Regions from separate parts of the Homo sapiens genome. Here region 1 is reported to be linked to region 2. The links are microRNA targets in miRTarBase. Many come from high-throughput screens and were not tested one by one. Region 2 holds a microRNA gene; the other region holds the end of a gene's coding sequence.
The links. Region 2 holds the annotated microRNA hsa-miR-2116-3p (CCUCCCAUGCCAAGAACUCCC, at 1,548-1,568, shown strand). A microRNA usually pairs through its seed, bases 2 to 8, with sites in the 3' UTR of a target mRNA and lowers its output. Matches are read on the target gene's strand: a 7mer-m8 pairs with bases 2 to 8, a 7mer-A1 pairs with bases 2 to 7 and ends in A, and an 8mer does both.

Region 1 (3,000 bases), not on the chromosome of region 2:
AGAGAGGTTGAAGGGCCCGCTGAAGAAAAGGAGGCCAATGGCTCCATCCAACCACTCTGATGGGAGAAAGGAAGAGGCAAGAGGTTCACATAAGGGGGCCCTCACCCCTCACCTAGGGTGCTCCTGGGTGGTGTCATCTGAGGACAGTGGCCCTCAGGTCAGCCTCTGGCTGGAGAGGAAGGTGCTCCAATGTCATGGCTACTGCCAGGAATACCTAAGGGTTCTGGGTTAAGATTGGCAGGGCCCACCGGATGATGAGGTTTCCCACCTCCCTCCAGCCCTGGCCCACTTGTGCCTATGCACAAAGACATCTGGAGGCCACTCACAGGAGCACCCGACAGGTCTGTGGGCAAACCCATGCTTCCTGTCTGGAGGGGTACGGGCCGGGATGCCCCTGTTGGCACCAGGCACAGCAGGCCACCATCAGCGGGTGATGCTCATGTGCCATGCTCTGGGCTCACTTCCTGTTGGCTCTGGCAAGCCTTGGTGCATGTCCTCCAGGTGCCACCAATAGTGTGGAAATGCCTTGGAGACCCTGGGGGGATGACATCTCTTGACTCTGACGGGCCTCATCTCTCCTAGATTCCCTGGGACAGAGGGTGAAAAGCTACAAAGTGCACTAGTGTTTGCAAACAGCCCTCTGGACACTTTTTGTGCAGGAACTGGAAGGGAAAACTGGTCAGCACGTGCTCCTGTGGCCCTGGAGGATGTCACAGGTGTCTTGTGGAGCGGGGAGCTAATAAGAGCCGATCGGGATTGGTGGTAGATTTCCAGATCACAGGTGTCTTGTGGAGCGGGGAGCTAATAAGAGCCGATCGGGATTGGTGGTGGATTTCCAAAGCACAGGTGTCTTGTGGAGCGGGGAGCTAATAAGAGCCGATCGGGATTGGTCGTGGATTTCCAGATCCCCGTGGAGTCAGCTGAAGTTCTTTCCTGGGCAGACGTGGAGACCTGAAATTCTCCATTTCACTGTAAACTGGGCCAGTTGTCCAGAGAAAGACACACGTTGCCATGAGCCTAACTTCTTGAGCGCCATGTGAATATGTGTATAGCAGGAAAGCCAGAGAAGGCAGGTATTCGTGTGACTGTGACTCGAGGAGGAGAATAACCCTGGAGCAAACAACTCAACTCCTAACCAGACCACACGCAGGAGGAGCTCCAGGGAGCCCCCAGACCCAGTGTGACCCATCGGTGTACCCCCGTGTCGCCTGCTGTAAGTGAGATTCTGAAGTTCAGCTGCCAGCTGACTGTGATGTTGATGGAGAATTTTACCACATTAGAAAGACACTAGATTCCGTTACACTTCGTTTTCAATTAAAGGATCTCATCTCTGAGCGATTTCACTTCCCCTAAGTGAAGAATGAAAATTAAAAACAGATACAGGCATATCACGTCCATAGAAGGCTCCAGGCGGAGGGGCCTCCGATGAGCCGCAGACAGCTTGCTGGCAGGGAAGAGGGTGTGGCTGCACGGACCTCTGCAGTCAGGATGCTTCTGACCTGGCCAGCCATGGTGCCCCAGGTCTCAGGGTCTCTCAGGGTCTCCAGATATAATAAAATCTCCTGTTCAGGCCACAGTCTCCCATCCTGTCCACACCCACATATTCTCCTCCACCCCTGGCCACGGGGCCTTTGCACAGGCTGACTGTGGGGGGACCGTCCTGGCTCATGGGGGGCAGGTCCCAGGTAAGTCCATCTTCAGAAGCCCCCATCTCCTCTGGGAAAAGCCCAGGATGGGGGATATTTGTGATGCTCTGGGTCTGGGTCTAGATGCTGATTACACAGGTATGTTCAGTTTGTGAAAATCCACCAAGCCATACACTATCATGTTCCCACTTTTCTGCACGTACACTTCACATGCTTCAATTAAAAATTTTAAAACAAACTCTAGGGGTGAACACAGGGACCCCCAGGCACCAGATTTCTTTCTCTATCCCGTATTAATAAGCTGATTTTAATGTTTTTAGAAGTCCAAAATTCTACATGATTTCATTCCTTAAAGGGCTAAACTTTTCAAAGCAAAGTTTGCAGTTTGGAAATATCCTTCTCTAAAAGGCTGAGCTTGCTGTGCTGGGGTGTTTCTTCCTTTTCCAGATAAAAATCACAAGTGAGACACTGATGACGGCTCTTCTGTCTCCAGGAACTGAGCGGCATGATTTTCCTTCTCTCTTTCATAGCATCCCCAAAACCAGGCTGATTGACGGCTCTTAAGAAACCAGTTAAATGGTTTGAAGTCTTCTTTGAGGAGAGAACTCACCCTGCCTTCAGGAGCAGAAAATCAAGGGGAGAACTTTCATTTGAGGGGACATGCTGGGTCAAGCCGTAGCACAAACAAGAGAAACAAAAGAAGGGAAATCAACTTACATAATACTTAGGCGAGAGGGGCTATCTCAGCGGAGAACTATTCCCACGAAGTGAGCAGGCTGTGGACTAACTGAGTCTACAGAGGCCCGGAGGGGGCCTGGGCGCAGGGAAGGCTGTTCTTGGAGGACAGGTGGGGAGGATTTGGAGGAAGAGCCCTCTCGAAGGAAGCCCAGGGGTATGAATCGGAAATCCCCAGGGCTTTTGCCATGGCCAGTTGGATCTATCTTCCTGATTGTAGGAAGGTCCGGCACGACCTGCTTCTCTACGGGAGAATCAGGCAAGTCAGGAAGAGGTAGGCTCACCTTTCTCTGGGGCCAGAAAGAGCAATCACGGGAAAGCTCCATGGACCCAGGGGTGGAGGCAGAAAGATGAAATTCCCAGGTCCTCCAGTCCCATCATTCCCCAGCCCTGCTCCAGCCTGCCTCTTTAACACTCATTGGGTGCCTTCATCTGCATCAGGACAGCTTGGCTCCTCTTCTTGCAGCAGCAACAGCCGACGCAGGCAGCCAGGGAGCAGGCCAGGGCGACAATGCCAATTACAATGGCGGCAATGGCCAGCCCGCTCTGGGCCTGGGTCATGCCCCAAACGCTGCGGTCATCAGTGACCTGAATGGTAGTCAGATCAGTGTAGTCTTCC
Region 2 (4,408 bases):
ATATCAGTATTTTAGAATGAAAATTTTATGAACTCCCAAGAAAATATATGCAGACACTGCCCCCTGTTTAGAAACATGCTGTAGTGCATCCTTGCTAAGTTCACCACAGGTGTTGGTGACTTTCCCTTTACACCTGCTGTCCTGATATGTGAAGTGACTCCATATGAGTTTGCCAGTTTTTAAGTCAAAAAGAGTCAAATGTCATCATTTTTTACATGTCATCCTAATAATCATGAACAATGCCCTCTTTCACTGTCATGGGGCCCGGTCATGTGATGAATGGAATGGCCTCTCAACAGTAGTGAAGATTGACTGTCCAAGGCAGCTTCCCCCTGTCCTGGTAACAGCAGTCCACTGTGTGAATTGTTGTCATCACATTGACCATGTCTGTCCACCTTTTTTTGAGACGGAGTCTTGCTCTGTCACCCAGGCTGGAGTGCAATGGCGCAATCTCGGCTCACTGCAACCTCCACCTCCCAGGTTAAAGCGATTCTCCTGCCTCAGCCTCCCAAGTAGCTGGGATTGCAGGCGCCCACCACCACACCCAGCTAATTTTTGTATTTTCAGTAGAGACGGGGTTTCACCATGTTGGTCAGGCTGGTCTCGAACTCCTGACCTCAGGTGATTCACCCGCCTCGGCCTCCGAAAGTACTGGGATTACAGGTGTGAGCCACCATGCCTGGCCTGTCCAGCTTCTTAAAGCTCCTCTCCTTACAGGGTGTAAAGCGAGACCTGCTCCTTACCCCAAAGTGCTTGTACTTAATCGGACGAGAAAAAGTCAAACAGGGCCCAGACAAGGGCCTGGTGAAAGAAGTCCTGAAGCGGAAAATCGAGATAGAACGGATCTTGTCTGTGTCCCTCAGGTGAGTAGTGGAGGTGCAGAGGCAGGACTGCCCCTTCTCGCCTCAGCATCACGGTCCGCTGTTCCAAACAGCCAGGAGGAAGGCCGGGCTGGGCTTCCCAGCTGTCAAAATCATGATCAAGAGAATGGAATTTCCCTTTGTCCCAAAGGGAAGACTCCCTAGTCTCAGCAAGTCTTGATATGTCAGGAAGAAGGTACCAAGAAAAGGTTGCCTCCGGACAGCTCCTCTAATCAAGGGGGACCCAGATCTCTTGTAACCGAAACGTGTTAGAAATGAACCCGGTATATGGAACACCTCAGAGAATAATTTCTCTTGTTGCAGTAGAGCCAAGGATTCAGAGCCCTGTCCCCCAGTCCACCTCACCCAGGTTGGAGGCCTCACCCATTTCCCTGAGCAGAGGGTCCTGAAAGGGAAGTTTCTTTGGGACTTCCTTAGGGAGTGCAAGTTGGTCTCCATTCTCTGTAGCCCTGGAGTCATCGTGAGATGCTCTCTTCGCTCCAATTCTCAGGCAGTGGGGAGTGGTGTTTGCTTCCACAAGGCCTCAGGAAGGGCCCTTGCTCCTCCCGGCAGCACCTTGGCTTCCTCTCGGCAGAAGGGCTCCTCTGCCGGCCGTCAGCATCTCCTCCGTCAGTGGGACCTAGGCTAGGGGTTCTTAGCATAGGAGGTCTTCCCATGCTAAGAAGTCCTCCCATGCCAAGAACTCCCAGACTAGGAGTCCTCCCATGCTAAGTCCTCCCGAAGTCCTCCCATGGTAAGAACTCCTAGACTAAGTTCCGCTGACACAGGAAATCCTCGCAATCCATGAAGACTAAGAATGGAAGAAAGGCCTCCTTGAGCCCCATAGCTTCCTCCAAGAATCGTGTCCCTGGGCCTCTGAGGCTAACACTACTTTAATCAGGAAAAGCTTTGGGCCTTTGCATTAAAGATGTTCTGCTCTCACATGAACATGGAATTGGGACGCCTGTCAAACTCTTACTCCACACAGAAGGCAAAACTGGTGCGCTCAGGAAAAAGCAGGGGTTTTATGTGCTCAGGCGTCTGATGTACCAAGCTGGAAATCCTAGTTCCAGTCTGATAATCCAAAACAGATTTCTAGTTGCATCCATTCTTGCCTGTGTCTCTGTGGTTTCTGATTCTATCTGTTCCTAATTTCCCTGGATAAAGGACCAGGCAGTGCAGTGCAGTGAAGTATTTAAAACGTGCCAACTCAGGATGTGGTAAAGTTGCTAAGCAGATGAGTCCGCAGTGTCCATTTTGCAGCCCCACCTCAGGTAGGTTTCAAGGCTATTGTTTTTTTTGTTTTTTTTTTAAAGCTCTAGGCGCTGACTGATTTTCTGAAGGCCTTCCTAAACATTCAGCTCACTGGCTGGGTCCCAACCTGAGCGGGGCAGTGCCTGCTGGCCACACTCTTCCTGGCTAGCTGGGCCCTGAGGCTGCCGTGGAAACCCAACAGGAAGCTCCTGCTTTGTTTGTCATTGCATGGGGCCCTGCCATGCCTGGACTAAGCCAGGTTGGCCACAGCGTGCTTGGCAGGCACAGCAGGTGAAAGTCAGGGAACCACAGCTCTAGGGTGTGTGTAGTCGCTGTGCCGAGAGTGACTTGTTCTTTCTGTTATTGCCCAGGTATGTCTTCAGTCCCTCAGACCCCTGGTGGAGTGCTCATGACTGGGACCATAAATTATCCTAATTGAGCTACATTTGTGTGGTTGTTTTGTTTTGTTTTGTTTTGTTTTGTTTTAGACAGAGTCTCGCTCTGTCACCCAGGCTGGAGTGCAGTGGCGTGATCTCAGCTCACTGCAACTTCTGCCTCCCTGGTCCAAGTGGTTCTCCTGCCTCAGGCTCCCGAGTAGCTGGGATTACAGGCCTGAGCCACCACCCCTGGCTAATGTTTGTATTTTTAGTGAGAGACAAGGTTTCACCACGTTGGCCAGGCTCGTCTTGAACTCCCGACTTCAAGTGATCCACTCATCTCAGCCTCCCAAAGTGCTGGGATTAGAGGCGTGAGCCACCGTGCCTGGCCTTGAGCTACACTTGTATCAAGCACTTTGACACTTACTATCTTATTGATAAGTCCTTGAGGGGGTTGTCAAGCAGGGACTGTAGGGACTGTTCACACTCAAATTTCTTCCTTTTATTGTTTTTTGTTTGTTTATTGTCTTCTTTTACAGCCTCTGGGGATATAATCTGTCATGGGAGCACCAGCTTCTTTTTCTTCTTCCTGTTCAGTATTCATTATCTGGAAGGTTCCTTTCTTGCGGTCTTTCCTTTTTAAAGGCTGTAGTAAAATGAGGTACTTAGCCTAAAAGTTTTTCTGACTCTAAGGAAAAAAAAAGAAAGTGTGAGTCATTTGAACTTGTGATGTCTGTGTATTGCAGTCACTGAACCTCACACTTGCCAAGATGAATAATAGTGTCCCCTCATTTCTTTATACTTGAGTTAGGCCAGTAATCAGAACCAAGTTAGGAAAGCAACCAGAGGGTGATGTGTGTGCAGAATCGAACCCAGAGTGGAAATTAATTCTGGTACCAGACTACTGAACATGCGTGTGTGTTCTCAAAATACTTCAGTACTGGCATAGAGAAAGATTTTAACAGTTGGCTTGTACTTCAGGAAAAAAGCTGCAACATCTGTATGTGTTTTTAAGAATTTCTGAGATTGACCAGTTGACTATTGGCTGGAATGATATCAACATATGGCCTCCTAGTTACGATTTATCAAAGTATCCCATAAGCTTGATCTTAGCCCATCTCTAGCTCTTACAATTAATGTCAGTGCACAGTGGGCCTACAGCTCCCTATTCAAACCAACCAACCATTCAGTAACAGTTACAAGACAACATGTGAGCATGACTAAATATTTGGTATGAAGAATTTATTGTTTATTTCTGTAGGTATGATAATGTTTTGTGGTTAATTTTAATATAAAGAGACTTTATCTTTTAATAATATGTACTGAAACATTTGAGCATGAAATAAAGGCTGAGCGCAGTGACCCACGCCTGTAATCCCAGCACTTTGGGAGACCAAGGCAGGAGGCTCGCTTGACCCCAGGAGGTTTGGGACCCACCTGGGCAACATAGTAAGAACCCATCTCTACAAAAAATGTGAAAATTAGCCAGGAGTGGTGGTACGTGCCCGTGGTCCCAGCTACTCAGGAAGCTGAGGTGGGAGGATTGCTTGAGCCCAATAGGTCAAGGCTGCAATGAGTCATGATCATACCACTGCACTCCAGCCTGGTAGTTATTTTAAAGTGGAAGCAGGGAGAGTGAGGTTGTAGATAATTGTGATTATCCGTGAATTGGTGCTTGAAATCTGACATGTGGTGGTTCATTCTATACTACTTTTTATTTTTTTGAGACGGGGTCTCACTTTGCCACCCAGGCTGGAGTGCAGTGGCGCAATCTCGGCTCACTGCAGCCTCGCCCTCCAGGTTCAAGCAATCCTCCCACCTCAGCCCCCTAAGTATCTGAGACTACAGGCATGTACCCCCACTTCTGGCTAATTTTTGTATTTTTTGTAGAGACACGGTTTCCCCATGTTACCCAGG

Region 1: miRTarBase lists LRRC15 as a target of hsa-miR-2116-3p. Seed matches in the 3' UTR shown: 8mer at 1,578-1,585.

What each region holds. Positions count from the first base shown.
Region 1 is chr3:194,356,509-194,359,508 of GRCh38, forward strand. LRRC15 (leucine rich repeat containing 15) reads right to left here. Exons shown (of 2, transcript NM_130830.5): 2 at 1-3,000. The coding sequence ends at 2,790. Among named protein-coding and RNA genes, the nearest start is that of CPN2, 6.7 kb to the left of the region's middle.
Region 2 is chr15:59,168,352-59,172,759 of GRCh38, reverse strand. MIR2116 (microRNA 2116) reads left to right here and starts at 1,498; the gene lies at 1,498-1,577. MYO1E (myosin IE) reads left to right here. Exons shown (of 28, transcript NM_004998.4): 22 at 718-863.